Linked DNA regions of Homo sapiens. The protein of the gene in region 1 purifies or fractionates together with the protein of each later gene. This does not show direct contact. Each region holds a gene or a part of one and is shown in the gene's direction. Other genes may lie near its edges.

Region 1 (7,814 bases):
AAATGAGACTGAACAGAATGTTGACAGCTTAGTTCTGTCAGACTTCTTGGTATGAGAATACAAACTATTGACCTGTGGCCTTATCATATCACACACAGAATATTATTGTTACTTGAGAAATCATATATGCACTCCTCAAACAACACTCTTCCTTCACTCCTCCAACACTCTCCCTTTCAGTGCATCCAGGGTCCAACTTCAGATCTGATCTTGATCTGTGCCAACCTAGTATAAATTAGACCTTTTCCAAACTTCATGCATAGACCAAGGGGAAGATTATTGGCATCCTGTTTACCTCCACCAAAGCAAAATTTTACTTATGTGGTACTGATTTCTCTTTCTCTCATTTCTCCACTTGATCTTTGTCACGACTCACAGAGCTCTGAGTCAGCATCCAACCTTAAATGATGACCTGCCAAATCGTATCATTTCTGGCTTGGTGAAAGTGAAAGGAAATGTGAAGGAATTCACGGAGACAGCTGCCATATTTGAGGATGGCTCCAGGGAGGATGACATTGATGCTGTTATCTTTGCCACAGGCTATAGCTTTGACTTTCCATTTCTGGAAGATTCCGTCAAAGTGGTCAAAAACAAGATATCCCTGTATAAAAAGGTCTTCCCTCCTAACCTGGAAAGGCCAACTCTTGCAATCATAGGCTTGATTCAGCCCTTAGGAGCCATTATGCCCATTTCAGAGCTCCAAGGACGCTGGGCCACTCAGGTATTTAAAGGTAAGTGACCATGCAAATAGACTACTTAATTACTTGGTGATATGTTTACCTCTGTTTAGGTACTTGTTTTTAAATAGCTAGAGATAGCATGTATGATTACAACAGTGCCTAGCACAAAGTTAGTACAGAAAAATATATTTTTGAGTGAATCTAAAGTAGCAATTTATAACCATGGACATACATCATACCTGGGAAATTTTTCCAAGCTATGCATGCTTTGACACCATCCTTGCTGATGCTTATTTAGTTAGTCTGGGGTGGGGCAGTCATAACATCTTTGAGAAAAATATTCCCCAGTAATTCCAATGTGTACTCCAAATTAGAATTTACTCATCTAGATTTTAGGCAACTGGCATATATTTCTGAAGTAAAATAGTTTTATCTTCTTTCATTATAGATAAAAATAAAATATAGAAATAGTATGACTTTATTTCGGCCGAAAATTAAGACCTGGTTGCAGACTAGTCAATATTGTAGGATATTCAATCCCCCAAATTCTCACTTTTCTCCTTTTATGTCCCCTCTTTCAGTTTTGGCTAGGAATATATGAAAAAAAAAGGGGAATAGGTTTCATATGAGTCAGTAGAATGATATAGCTTCCAAAGAAATAATTAAATCTAGCATCATTAAAAAACTATAATGTTCTAGAACATTACAACTGTTGTTCTCTAAACTGGCCAGACCACACCTAATGATACATTTTAAAAGTGAAGCTGGAGTGCGTTTAATAAGGAGAGAGAGAAAAATTTTTTAAGGGATTTGAAAACATGCCATCTGAAGTACAACTGAAAAAGCCGGAGAGAGATTTAGCCTGGAGAAGATAAACTTCAGGAGAGATATGAGAATTTCCTTCAAATATCTGAAGGGAAGGCACATGGAAGAAGGATTAGATTTACTCAGTATAGCTTCAAAGGGTCAAACCAGAATCAAGGAGTGAAATCTTGAGGGTTACACATCAGCTTACCATTAAGAAAAAAATCCAAAACCTTTTTCCTATCAGCCAATGCCATTTCATGATGGAACCAGCTGCCTCTGAAATTCTAAGCAGAAAAGGAAAAGGATGCCAAATGACTGAATGCTCACTGGGCCGGGGCAGGAGAGGGGGAAGGTATGGAGTAGATTCAAGCCTCAGGATAGAGAGAAACAAGATGATGTTTAAGGGTCCTTCTAAAGAAGAAATTCACTGATTCTATGGTTGTTATAACAAAATTTGCTATTGTTACTAGCATTTAATTAAAACTACTCAGAGTTCCTGTTGGAATTACACCTTTTTTGTTTTCACTAGTGAAAATCTTCACAGTTGCAGAGAAAAAAAGAACCAATGGTATTACAGTTGATAGTTCAACAACCTTTCTAAATTTCCCCAAATTTCTATTACTTCCAGTCCTATCCAGCAGATTATGTACTACCTGAGAGAACTATACAAGTAGTCAAACGCAAATAGCCCATTAAGTTGGCCTAATTCTAGTCATATTAAAGTGATCTTTTAATTGGGTCAATTACATAAGCGGAGAACAGTTCATTAAAACAGGCCACAGCATCTTAGTATACTTTAAGCAACTGGGACTCTTTTCCAAGACCAAGTGAATTCTTGAGAGGAAATAGAGAAAATGAGTATTTGCAAGAGTCTGCATTATGGTTATGAGATTATGGGATCTTAGGGAAAATGTACAAAAAGCCCAGCTTCCTATGCTAGCAGAAGCCTAGTGCTAATTCCTCCAGCTTTTTTCTAACACCTGGAAGGAAGAAATCTTCAGAATTCTCTAACTTTACCAGACTTCCAACAGGAACTCTGGGTTTTTTATTCTGTCCATGGCCAATCTGTCTGCCTCCCACATTCTTGCCTTTCTCTTCCCTGAATTATCCCTTCACTATGCCAATTTTAAACCCTTTGGATTAGCTTGTTTTTCCCATTTTTTTCATGTCTGCCCAACAAAGCCTGCCTCCTTCCTTGTCTGTTCCCTACCAAGCCCCATTTTCCTTCTTCTTCTGTTCTCTGGAATTATTGTTCTCTTGTCAAGAAAATATTCTACTCTTTTCTAGAACACTGAATTTACTTCCTTGCCTTGACTGAAATGAAACATAGTTTCTGTTTTGATTGCGTCTTTTGCAGCCCTTGCAAGTGTTTTATTTTCACTCAGCAACTTTCTTTCCTTCAAAACTATATCAAGTTACACCAAATCTCTGGATCACAAGAAGTCATTATGTCATAGGCTGGCATTAAAGTTCCTCCACAAATTGGATACAACCTCCAATTTCAGGCCCATCTTTCTTTCTTTTTTTTTTTTTTTTTTTTTTTTTGAGATGCAGTCTCGCTCTGTCGCCCAGGCTGGAGTGCAGTGGCGCTATCTCGGCCCACTGCAAGTTCCACCTTCTGGGTTCAGGCCATTCTACTGCCTCAGCCTCCCCAGTAGCTGGGACTACAGGCGCCCGCCACCATGCCCGGCTAGTTTTTTTGTGTTTTTAATACAGACGGGGTTTCACCATGTTAGCCAGGATGGTCTCCATCTCTTGACCTCGTGATCCGCCTGCCTCAGCCTCCCAAAGTGCTGGGATTACAGGCATGAGTCACTGTACCCGGCCTCAGGCCCATCTTTCACTAGTCTTTACCATACTTCCTACAATACTCTAGATGCACTGGATGACGTACCCACTAAGCAGCAAACACAGCAGGTACCCTTGTACCCTGTGCTTTTGCTTCCACTGTGCTTTCTTCTTGATATGCCCTCCTTTTACTTTTTATTTCTATAGGAAAAGTCTATGCATATTTCTTCCCTCCCTTTGTAATATAGTGATAGCTCCTTAAGTAAAGGACTCATGTTTATTTGCCTTTGTATTGCAAGCCTAGACCACTGCCTAGCACATAAGAGGTATCTAATAAACATCTATTCTAAGAAATGTCAGTTTAGCCTTGAGGTAAATTAAATTCTAAATTCTGATGTAGAAACTTCTTATTTGAGGATCTCAGCTTATGGGCTACCTTAGCCAATTTCCAGTTATGTTAAAAGCCTGAACTGGACTGAAATTGCAGAATGGGAGCCAGATCTCTTTTCTCTCATAACATTAGCTATACACTGAAATATGCAGGAGCAAGTCAGGATTACACAGATACAACCTGCTTTAGGCTGACAGCAGACTGAAGGCCTACCACCACAGAACTCTAATTCAGACTCTCTTCCTTCCCACCTTGTCTTGGAACCCTTGGAAGATCTCTGAACTTCAGTTCCTCACTGTTCTTCAACATTCTTCAGATAACATATACTGACCTTTTAGTATGTACCAGGCCTTCTGCTAGGGGCTGGAGAAGCAAATATGACCATACAGAAAATCCCTATCTTTCTGGAATGCAGAGCCAAGCAAGGAAGACTGTGTTAGCCCATTCTCATGCTGCTATAAAGAACTGCCTGAGGCTGAGTAGTTTCTAAAGGAAAGAGGTTTAATTCACTCACAGTTCTGCATGGCTGGGGAGGCCTCAGGAAACTTACAATCATGGCAGAAGGAACTTCTTCACAGGGTGGCAGGAGAGAGAATGAGTGCTGAGTGAAAGGGAAAGCCCCGTATAAAACCATCAGATCTCGTGAGAACTCACTCAGTATCATGAGAACAGCATGAGCAGTATGAGAGTAACCACCCCATGATTAAATCACCTCCCACCAGGCCCCTCCCATGACACATGGGGATTGTGGGACCCAAAATTCAAGATAAGATTTGGGTGGGGACACAGCCAAACCATATCAAAGACAGACAAGTAAACAGACGCTTAATGATTTGTTCATTCAGCAGATATTTAACTATATCCTAAACAAGTGCTCCAGTAGCAATGCAGAAGAGCTGCCATGAGAGCAGTGGGCAATAAGTACCCAATTCTCCCTACAACTACATAGGAATTTACTAAAAGGACAAGGAAATATTGACCATAGAGGGGAAATAATCACTACTGTTTATGCAAAGTTAGATGAAAGTGACAGAACAAATAGAGTTCTGGGAACTGCAAGTAGTTCAGAATGCTGGTAAAGTGTTATAGGAATGAAGGAAAATGAAACTAGAAATATTCACAGGCAATATCAAGAGTTTGCATTTAAGGTACAAGTTGGAGAACCACTGAAGGATTTTAACTGGAAGAGGAGTCAAATCAGATCTCCAGTTTAGAAGATATGTTAGAGAGGAGTGAAATGGGAAATAGGTCAGTACGAGCCTGTGGTAAAAGTCTCAGTAAGACAGCATGAGAGCTTTAAACCAAGGTAATGACACTCTAAAGGAATTGGAGGAGCCAGACTTAAATGAAATTTCACAGGCAAATCTGAAGAATTTGGTGACAGAAAGCATGTTGGAGAAGAGAGACAGAAAAGAATCTGTTCAGGTGTTGAGGCCATTCATTGGAATTGGGAAACTAAGACAGGGAGCAAAGACATGGAGGGAGATAAGAAATATGGTAAAGCTAATGTGTCTAAATAAGGAAACACTGCAAAAACAAAATTTATGAATTAAGACATAACTGTACCACAGAGTATACACGTAAAAAGATGTATACATCTTTTTAAAATTTTTTAATTTTTTTAAATTTTTTCACCCCATGAGCTCTAGACTAAGATGTATATACCTCTTTATCTATCTATATATAGACAGATAGGGTAATAGATAGGGTTTTTTGTTGTTTTTTTCTTTCTTTTATGAATTGGGTGTCTCCCACAATCAAGAAATATACCTCCTCCTTCATGTTTCTAGCTAATAGAAGTAAAACTTGTGGTTGTGTAGAAGTAATTTGGAAATTGACTCTCAAAACGCTTATTTTGAGTATCCGAAGAGACCTATGATTAAGCTTAAATGAAGCATTTCAGTGTTTCCTAATTGATTTATGATGATAAATAATAATTCCCATGGCTAAAATGTAAAAACACATGGAAAACAACAGAAGGCTATTTGAGAGTGATGAACTTCTGAGTTCCATATTTTAAGAGGGATACACCAGGATAGTTATTAGAGTATGCTTAGTGAAGGGCAACCAAGATGGCAGAGAATGTGAAAACCATTATATGGGAAACATGTACTGTTTAGCCTGATAATGAGAAGACTTAAAGGAGTTATGACAATCATTTCCAAATGTTTCAAGAGCTGTCATGTATTAACATTAAACTCTGTGGCTCCAGAAAGCAGAGCTTGGTCCAGTGGTGCAAATGCAAAGAGTCAGATCTTGGGGTCAATAAAAACAATAATGTTCCAGCAGCCAGAGCAGTCAAATAATTATATAATCACCTCAGATATAATTATTATAGATACCCATCACCAGTGATGTTTAAAGAGGAATGAGATAACCACTAGGTTAGAGTACTTGTAGAAAGAATGCTTGTATCAGGTAAAATATATTGCCATTCTGAAATTCCATATTCCACAATTTTATGGAGTGACACCTTAGGACTGGATGTGGCCAAAATCTTCTACATGGCATAGTCCCTAGTTATAGGGGCATACAACTAATTGTTTAAGCTTAGCATTGTTCATACTGGCTTAAATACTATTAAGCCTTAGTCTAGCCCTGTCCTTGGTGTATAATTCCTACAACTGGAACTGTTTGTGCATCTTACTTAAATTTATCAGTTAATATTAGGTATTATGAGTTCCCCTTGGCCTTAACCCCTACTCTTATCAAAGAAACATGTTTAGAAAATGAAGCTTATCTTCCACAGGACTTTAGGCATAAAATGTGATTAAGATTTATTTTGGCTGGGCATGGTGGCTCATGCCTGTAATCCCAGCACCTTGGGATGCAGAGACGGGTGGATCATCTGAGGTCAGGAGTTCGAGACCAGCCTGACCAATATGGTGAAACCTCGTCTCTACTAAAACTACAAAAAAAAATTATTTGGGTTTGGTAGGATATCAGTGATGGAAGATGAAAGGAATGAAATGAAGTGAGAAGGGAAGTTTAGAGAAAAAAGAATAAAAAGAAACGAACAAAGCATCCAAGGAATATGGGACTATGTGAAAAGACCAAATCTACGTCGGATTGGTGAACCTGAAAGTGACGGGGAGAATGGAACCAAGTTGGAAAACACTCTGCAGGATATTATCCAGGAGAACTTCCCCAATCTAGCAAGGCAGGCCAACATTCAGATTCAGGAAATACAGAGAACGCCACAAAGATACTCCTCAAGAAGAGCAACTCCAAGACACATAATTGTCAGATTCACCAAAGTTGAAATGAAGGAAAAAATGTTAAGGGCAGCCAGAGAGAAAGGTCGGGTTACCCACAAAGGGAAGCCCATCAGACTAACAGCAGATCTCTCGGCAGTAACTCTACAAGCCAGAAGAGAGTGGGGGCCAATATTCAACATTCTTAAAGAAAAGAATTTTCAACCCAGAATTTCATATCCAGCCAAACTAAGCTTCATAAGTGAAGGAGACATAAAATACTTTACAGACAAGCAAATGCTGAGAGATTTTGTGACCACCAGGCCTGCTCTAAAAGAGCTCCTGAAGGAAGCACTAAACATGGAAAGGAACAACCGGTACCAGCCACTGCAAAAACATGCCAAAATGTAAAGACTGTCAAGGCTAGGAAGAAACTGCATCAACTAACAAGCAAAATAACCAGCTAACATCATAATCACAGAACCAAATTCACACATAACAATATTAACTTTAAATGTAAATGGGCTAAATGCTCCAATTAAAATACACAGACTGGCAAATTGGATAAAGAGTCAAGACCCAACAGTGTGCTGTATTCAGGAAACCCATCTCATGTGCAGAGACACACATAGGCTCAAAATAAAGGGATGGAGGAAGATCTACCAAGCAAATCGAAAACAAAAAAAGGCAGGGGTTGCAATCCTAGTCTCTGATAAAACAGACTTTAAACCAGCAAAGATCTAAAGAGACAAAGAAGGCCATTAAATAATGGTAAAGGGATCAATTCAACAAGAAGACCTAACTATCCTAAATATATATGCACCCAATGCAGGAGCACCCAGATTCATAAAGCAAGTCCTTAGTGACCTACAAAGAGACTTAGACTCCCACGCAATAATAATGGGAGACTTTAACACCCCACTGTCAACATTAGACAGATCAACGAGACAGAAG
Region 2 (7,814 bases), on another chromosome or scaffold:
GCCTGGCTTTTTTTTTTTTTTTTTTTTTTTTTTTCTCTCTTTTTGATACCTCTTGGTTGGCACCAGCCGTAAAATGAATGAGCATAGAAATACTATAGTTACTGCTAGGATTTCTTTTTTGTTTTCTTTCCATCACAAAACTCTCTTGGTTTTTAACTTACATTAACAGCATTGCTTCCTCTTTGTGGTGCCAGTCAACCGAAACCATGAACCTGACTCTCAAAAGAGCCAAGGTAGGGTTTCTAAAGATTAAAATGTTTAATTAAGCTAGACATTTGAAAAGTCTTTTTTTATATTGGAGCAACTCTGAAAGGATGTTTAATGCCTACTCCTTAAAAAAAAAATGATAATGCTAAGTGCCGTAGGGATGCTAAAGACTTGTATAGGTCTGCCTGATCAAGAATATTTTATATTGGCCGGGCGCGGTGGCTCACGCCTGTAATCCCAGCACTTTGGGAGGCCGAGGCGGGCGGATCACGAGGTCAGGAGATCGATACTAGCCTGGCCAACATGGCGAAACCCTGTCTCTACTAAAAATAGAAAAAATTAGCCGGGCGTGGTGGCGGGCTCCTGTAATCCCAACTACTCGGGAGGCTGAGACAGGAGAATCGCTTGAACCCGGGAGTTGGAGGCGTAGATTGCATTGAGCCGAGATAGTGCCACTGCACTCCAGCCTGGGCGACAGAGTGAGATTCCGCCTGAGAAAAAAAAAAAAGAATATTTTGTATCACTTGTGAGAGGCTAACATTAGATTGTCCAGATGAAAGTGCTACAGTTATACATTGGTATGTAATGAATTTTAATTTGGTCTGTCATTGTCCTTTTTGTGGTGCAGAGGAGTCATTCTGCCTAGAGATTGGAGCTAAAATACATTGCAGAAATTTGTTTTAGACTAGTCTCTTATGTAGATTGTGTGGGTTTATGTAGAACATTTTGTGTTCAGAATGCTTTTATTAACCTTCTTCATGGTACTCTTGAGAGGCTGTCCTTATCTCTTACTGATGATTAGACTGAGACAAGTGGAAAGTAAAGGTTAGACAAGATGTAAAGTGTGTGGTTTGAGCTGTGATGAGCACACTAGGGAGTTCCAGATACCAGTTTGATGCTTATTCAACCATTTAGGTTATCGGTCTGCGAGTTTGTTTTCTGCAGTGTGTGCATAACTAGTGTTTTGTCCTCTTAGAGGATACTCTGGGGACATTCTTGAGTTTTCTTTGTTTATTCCTTTCCGTTTAAGGACCAGAAGTAATATTCTTGAATTTTCATTTGTTCAGATCTTTGCTCTGTAATTAAGATTGCGTGAGAGTTTGTTGTTTGGGCCAGTTAGGCTGTTGAATTTCTTGGGAATGTGGTTTCAGGCATTTTTTGGTCCCTTTGATTATATCATTGTATGTGGAACTTTTTTTGAGAGAGAGAGTTTTGCTCTGTCACCTAGGCTGGAATGCAATGGCGCGGATCTTGGCTCACCGCAGCCTCCGCCTCCTGGATTCAAGCAGTTCTCCTGCCCTAGCCTCCCAAGTAACTGGAATTCCAGTCCTGGCCAGGAACTTTTTTTAAAAAAGAGGAGCACGATCATAAAATTAAGTCAGATTCTTTCCTAATCCTATCTCTGATTTGTTTTTAATTGCTTTACCTGTTTATCTCCCCTCACCCTTTTGTTGTTGTTGTTTGAGATGGAGTCTTGCTCTGTAGCCCAGGCTGTAGTGCAGTGACGCAGTCTCGGCTCACTGCAAGTCCGTCTCCCAGGTTCAAGTGATTGTTGTTTCTCAGCCTCCCAAATAGCTGGGATTACAGGCATTTGCCACCATACCTGGCTAATTTTTGTATTTTTAGTAGAGACATGGTTTCACCATGTTGGCCAGGCTGGGTCTGGAACTCCTGACCTCAAGTGATCTACCTGCCTCAGCCTCCCAAAGTGCTGGGATTACAGGCGTGGGTCACCTCACCCGGCCTCCCCTCACCCTTTCTAAAGCAGTTTTACTATCATTCTAGGAAGTAATTGTTACTGTTGGCAGCTTGTATTACATTGCTGCCGTTCCCCATTATAAGATTGAGATCTCTTAAAAAATTGGAATTAAATATATTTGGACTTTATCAACAGTGGAAAGATGATAGATGTTTGTTTTAAAATAACTATCACCTAAGTAACTAATGTCATGGTAGAAAAAATAAAAAAAATTACCTAAGCAAAAATGGAATAAAAGTCACCTTGTAACGTCACCACCCAAAGATTAAAGGAACCTTAGTATTTTATTAAATATCCTTCCGATTTGGTGTATTTTATGCTTTTTACAAAATAGGATTGTATTATATGTTTTGTAACTTGCTTTTCTCAATAAAGCTTACCACATTTTAAAACTGAATATAATTTCATTCTTACTTTGAATCTAGGATTTTATGGAAGACCTTGGGTTATGGAACAGAGAAAAGAACTCTTTAGAAGGTAAATCTTCATTATATGAAGGAGAGAGGAGAACCTTAAACTCTTAACATTTTCTTTTGTTTGAAGAAATACTAACAGTGAATAGCCCAGGTGCATTTTGATGGTTTCTCAATTGCAGAAGTTATTTTACCTTGGTCCCTTTTTTCTTCACCTAGGCCTTTGATTTTCAAACTTTTCCTGGGGAGCTGAATAAGTTTTGGGCTTCACCTTACCCAGAGCTGTTGTGTTTTTTAAGAGTGTTTTGTATGTTGGCATACATTGTAATACTTAATTTTTTTAAATTCCACTGATTACAAAAAGGTTAAAAGCTACTGTCATAGAATATTAGCTTTGTATGAGATGGAGATGCTCCAAGAAGAGGGAAATGGAGATTGACAGCCTATGAATGTTGCCTGTTTATACATATGTAATTTTCTTTCTCCTTAAGGCTCCAGAAATGGGAATTAAATACATACTTGTATGCCCCAAAAGATGACTACAAACATAGGATGTTTTGGCGAGAGATGTATTCAGTGGAGGAAGCTGGTAATCTTTTTCTTTTTATCCATAAATTCAAAATCTGTGAAGAAAACGGTTATATTTTAAATGTAGTTGTACAAGAATTTTATGACATTTTATTTTTATTTTGTAGGTAGTTTCCTTTTCTTCTATCTGGTAACTATTCAGTTAGCTGAGATTGAAAGAGTGCTCTGCGCTAGCAAGGTCATGACCATATGTGTGATATCATGGGCGTGCTAGGCTGACTCCATCTGTTCTGTGGTCATAGATTGTGCTGCTTACTTCTGCCAGTGGATTAAACAGTGGGCCACTGGGCAAAGAAGTGCTGGAGCTGGGCTAGGCCCAGGGCAAGGCAAGTGAGGCACGTACCTTGGGTGCAAATTTTAAGGGACCCCCAAAAAGTAATCAACATAAATAATATTTTATGCAATTTTTTTAAAAAACCAAAATTAATGCAGAAATTCATGATGTACACAATGCTAAAATTTTAGGTAAAGACAGGATCAGCACTACTGATTGTTCCTTTTGCTTCAGGCTCTAGTATGGCTTGGCCTTGTCAGCAGTTACTGGTCCTTAAACCCTAGTCCAGGAAAGTGGGAAGCCATTAATAGGCTGTCTTTGGGTTTTGTTTTGTTTTGTTTTGTTTTTTGAGACAGAGTCTTGCTCTGTCCCCCAGGCTGGAGTGCAGTGGTGCGATCTCGGCTAACTGCAAACCTCGCCCTCCCGAGTTCAAGAGATTCTGCTGCCTCAGCCTCCCAAAGTGCTGGGATTACAGGCTTGAGCTCCTGTGCCCGGCCGGCCTGCTATGGGTATACTTAACGTTGAGTTGGTTACATAAAATTGATAAAAAGTAGTATAGCATTGAACCGCCAAATTAGAGAGGTGCTTTTCTTTGGGAACTTGTAAATGGTGAAACATTTTTGTACTTGAAATTAAATGGTATACGCATATAGCTAACAAGATATTTGGTTACAGAGCCCAGCCAAGGCACAGAAGGCTGAAAGTTTTCTTGAATTACAAAGAAGCAATTACAGCTTACCCCATCTCCATCTAGTGTTGTGGTTTACTACTCTATTTAAGTGTGCCTTCAACTTAATTACTTTCTGGTGGTGCTGGTAATGAAACTTAATGTGATCAATAATCAAAATAGAGTAAAAATGACTATCTTGAGATACTACTGAAAATTATTCAAAAATATGTCTTATAGTATATACTAGTAGTAGTTAAGTTGATTTAGGAAAATTGTCAATTGATAATTTTAAAAGGTTAAAATCTATAATTAATGTTTTTCCCATAGATAGAAACAGGTCAAGATTGTTAAGGCCATGACTTAACTCTGGTTCTTTTTCTTTTTCTTTTTTTGGAGACAGCGTTTGTCACTTTGTTACCCAGGCTGGAGTGCAGTGACTCACTGCAATTTTGATCTCCCCGGCTCAAGCAATCCTCCCGCCTCAGTCCCCCAAGTAGCTGGGACTACAAGCGCGGGTCACCACACCCAGCTAATTTTTGTATATTTTGTAGAGAGAGGGGTTTGCCATGTTGCCTGTGCTGGTCTCAAACTCCTGAACTCAAGCAGTCAACTTGCCGTGGCCTCTCAAAGTGCTGGGATTACAGGTGTGATTCATTTTTTTTTTTTTTTTTTTTTTTTTTCATTTTTTTTCATTTTTTGAGATGGAGTCTTGCTGTGTCGTCCAGACTGGGGTGCAGTGGTGCGATCTTGGCTCACTGCAACCTCTGCCTCCAGGGTTCAAGCAATTCTCCTGCCTCAGCCTCCCTAGTAGTTGGGATTACAAGTATGCGCCACCACGCCTGGCTAATTTTTGTATTTTTAGTAGAGATGGGGTTTCACAATGTTGACCAGGCTGGTCTCAAACTCCTGACCTCAGGCAGTCCTCCTGCCTGGCCTCCCAAAGTCCTGGGGTTACAGGCATGAGCCATTGGGCCTGGCCTACCCTGATTCTTAAGAAAGCATTTTCTTTCTTTCATATTATAAAGTAGTTATGTGTAGGTTTATTTAGTTAGGAATTCCAGCTGTTCAGAGATGGCAAAACAAAAAAAAAAAGCAAGATCCAGTACCATGGCTCATGCCTGCAATCCCAACACTGTAAGAGGCTAAGGCAGGCGGATCACTTGAGGCCAGGAGTTCGAGACCAGCCTGGGCAATATGGCAAAACCCTCATCTCTACTAAACAAAAATTAGCCGGGTATGCCTGTAATCCCACCTACTCAGGAGGTGGAGGTTGCAGTGAGTCAGGATCGTGCCACTGCACTCCAGCCTTGGGCAACAGAGCAAGGCTCTCAAAATAAAAAAGCAGCGGCTGCATTTTATGCCTTTCAAATGCTGCAGGAAATAGAAATGGCTTAAGTTCAGTAAGAGAATTGACAATTCAGTGTTTTTGAGAAGTGGCAATGAAAGGGAGGAAAATGTTTATTGATTTTAGCCTGTTTCCCCAAAAGGATAAGAAACTATTTGGAAGTGAAAAAGAAGGGCCTCTTATTTTCTGTTGGTTCAGATTTCAAAGGTGTGAAAACTATTCTTTTTCCCTTACTGTGACATTAAATCACTTCAGGCTTGTACCATTTTGTATGGCCTGTTGTTAAGTTGGACATGACAATTTGTAAAATGTGAGGATCTTTTCCTTTCTTGTAAGTTAGAAGAAATAACCTCTTCAGTTAAACCTTCAGTGAAGGTTCTTTTAGTTTTCTGTTCTGCTTTCTAAAAACATAGACTCTGTTCTTTAGAGCAACTTATGACTCTCATCTCTGCTGCACGAGAATATGAGATAGAGTTCATCTATGCGATCTCACCTGGATTGGATATCACTTTTTCTAACCCCAAGGAAGTATCCACATTGAAACGTAAATTGGACCAGGTAACTCCTTACTTTTTATTCATTTTTCCTGACTATGTACTTGAAACTAGAAGTTTACTCAGTTGCTTTTACGATGTTAAAAGGAAATCAAATTCCTATTTCTTTGTTTTCTTTTTTTGTTTGTTTGTTTTGTTTTTTGAGACAGAGTCTTGCTCTGTCGCCCAGACTGGAGTGCAGTGGCACAATCTCGGCTCACTGCAACCTCCTCCGCCTCCCGGGTTCAAGTGATTCTCCTGCCTCAGCTTCCCGAGTAGCTGGGACTATAGGTGCGTGCCATCATGCCTGGCTAATTTTTGTATTTTTAGTAGAGACAGGGCCTTCACCATGCCAGCCAGGCTGGTCTCGAACTGCTCACCTCATGATCTTCCCAAAGTGCTGGGATTACAGGTGTGAGTCACCATGCCTGGTTTTTTATTTCTTTGTTTCTATAAGAATTTTTTTTACTTTGAATGCTTTTTTTTTCTTTTTTTTTTTTTTTGAGACAGAGTCTTGCCCTGTTGCCTGGAGTGCAGTGGCCCAATCTCGGCTCACTGCAACCTCCACCTCCCAAGTTCAAGCGATTCTCATGCCTCAGCCTCCTGAGTAGCTGTTACAGGCACACCACCATGCCTGGCTAATTTTTATATTTTTAGTAGAGACAGGGTTTTGCCACGTTGGCCAGGCTGGTCTCGAACTCCTGACTTTAGGTGATTCACCCACTTCAGCCTCCCAGAGTGCCGGGATTACAGTCGTGCGCCAGTGCACCCAGCCTTGAATCCTTCTGATAGAGGAATATTTTCCAAATTAAGTAAAAAGAGCTTTACTGGAGGTACTAGTTCTTCTCAAATTTCAGTTTGCATAAGAACTGCCTTAAAAGAATGATTAGAAGTGAAGCTTGGAAGAATGCTGACTGCTGGACTTTATTTCCCAAATGGATAAGGTGGGGACCGGGAATCTAGGTGATTGGTGGTCAAGAACCACATTTTGAGAAATTATATATACCCTAGGCTGCTTGGCTTGAATTTACACCTGAGATTACAGAAACAGGGTTTTACCTATTAGACATTAGTTTCTTCAATTATATGGACGAAGAGATGTCTGGAAATGGCTAGTTTCCCAAGATGAGAAGAAAAACAGACTAGGTGAACCTAATTGAGTGTAAAGTCTGCTTAATGTAAAAGCTGCAGACTTCCTTTGGTCCAATGTAGGGGGCTTCCATTTTCCTTTTTTTTTTTGAAACTGAGTCTTGCTCTGTCGCCCAGGCTGGAGTGCAGTGGCGCGATCTCAGCTCATTGCAACCTCTACCTCCTGGGTTCAAGCAATTCTCTGGCCTCAGCCTCCTGAGTAACGGGGATTACAGGCATGTGCTACCACACCTGGCTAATTTTTTTGTATTTTTAGTAGAGATGGGGTTTCACCATGTTTGCCAGGCTGGTCTCGAACTCCTAACCTCATGGTTTGCCCGCCTCGGCCTCCCAAAGTGCTGGGATTACAAGTGTGAGCCACTGCGCCCGGCCCCATTTTTCTGTTATTTTAGTTTGCTGGTTTTTCTATATACATGTCTTATTTCTTTAGGCAAAGATTTATATGGGTGGCATTAAAATGTCTGGTAAAAAATTTAAGGCAGTTGAAATTTTCATGAATGAAGTTATTTTACTATTTGATAAAATTCTATTCTTTCTGATTCATACCTGGTTAGGTTTATCTGCAAAGGGATCAGTGTGCCTTTTGGGACTAGGACACAGCCTGGCTTTTTCATGTCTTAAGGTTACTTACTCATGTTTCTGTATTTTTCTGACTTTGTTGGGTCTTCTACAATCAGCAGCAGCCCATGAGGACTAGGAGGCTAGGCCACTTTGTTGGATCATATTGTCATATAAGTTGAGTATCCCTAATTCAGAAATCTGAAATGTTCCAAAATATGAAACTCTTTGAGCTCCATAAAATTCAAAGGAAATGCTCATTGGAGCATTTCAGATTTTGGATTTTCAGGTTAGGGATGCTGAATATAATACAGATAT

The links. The genes of interacting proteins can lie anywhere in the genome.
Region 2: the proteins of FMO5 (region 1) and OGA purify together in Homo sapiens (affinity purification with mass spectrometry; 2 studies listed by BioGRID and IntAct, with this or other methods). This does not show direct contact.

Annotation. Positions count from the first base shown.
Region 1 is NC_000001.11:147,194,069-147,201,882, reverse strand, and holds part of FMO5 (flavin-containing monooxygenase 5), read left to right. Parts: intron 1-378; coding exon 379-731; intron 732-7,814. UniProt on the Homo sapiens protein: Acts as a Baeyer-Villiger monooxygenase on a broad range of substrates. Catalyzes the insertion of an oxygen atom into a carbon-carbon bond adjacent to a carbonyl, which converts ketones to esters.
Region 2 is NC_000010.11:101,808,184-101,815,997, reverse strand, and holds part of OGA (protein O-GlcNAcase), read left to right. Parts: intron 1-45; exon of another isoform or gene 46-233; intron 234-2,391; coding exon 2,392-2,443; intron 2,444-2,870; coding exon 2,871-2,968; intron 2,969-3,691; exon of another isoform or gene 3,692-3,746; coding exon of another isoform or gene 3,747-3,750; intron 3,751-5,683; coding exon 5,684-5,814; intron 5,815-7,814.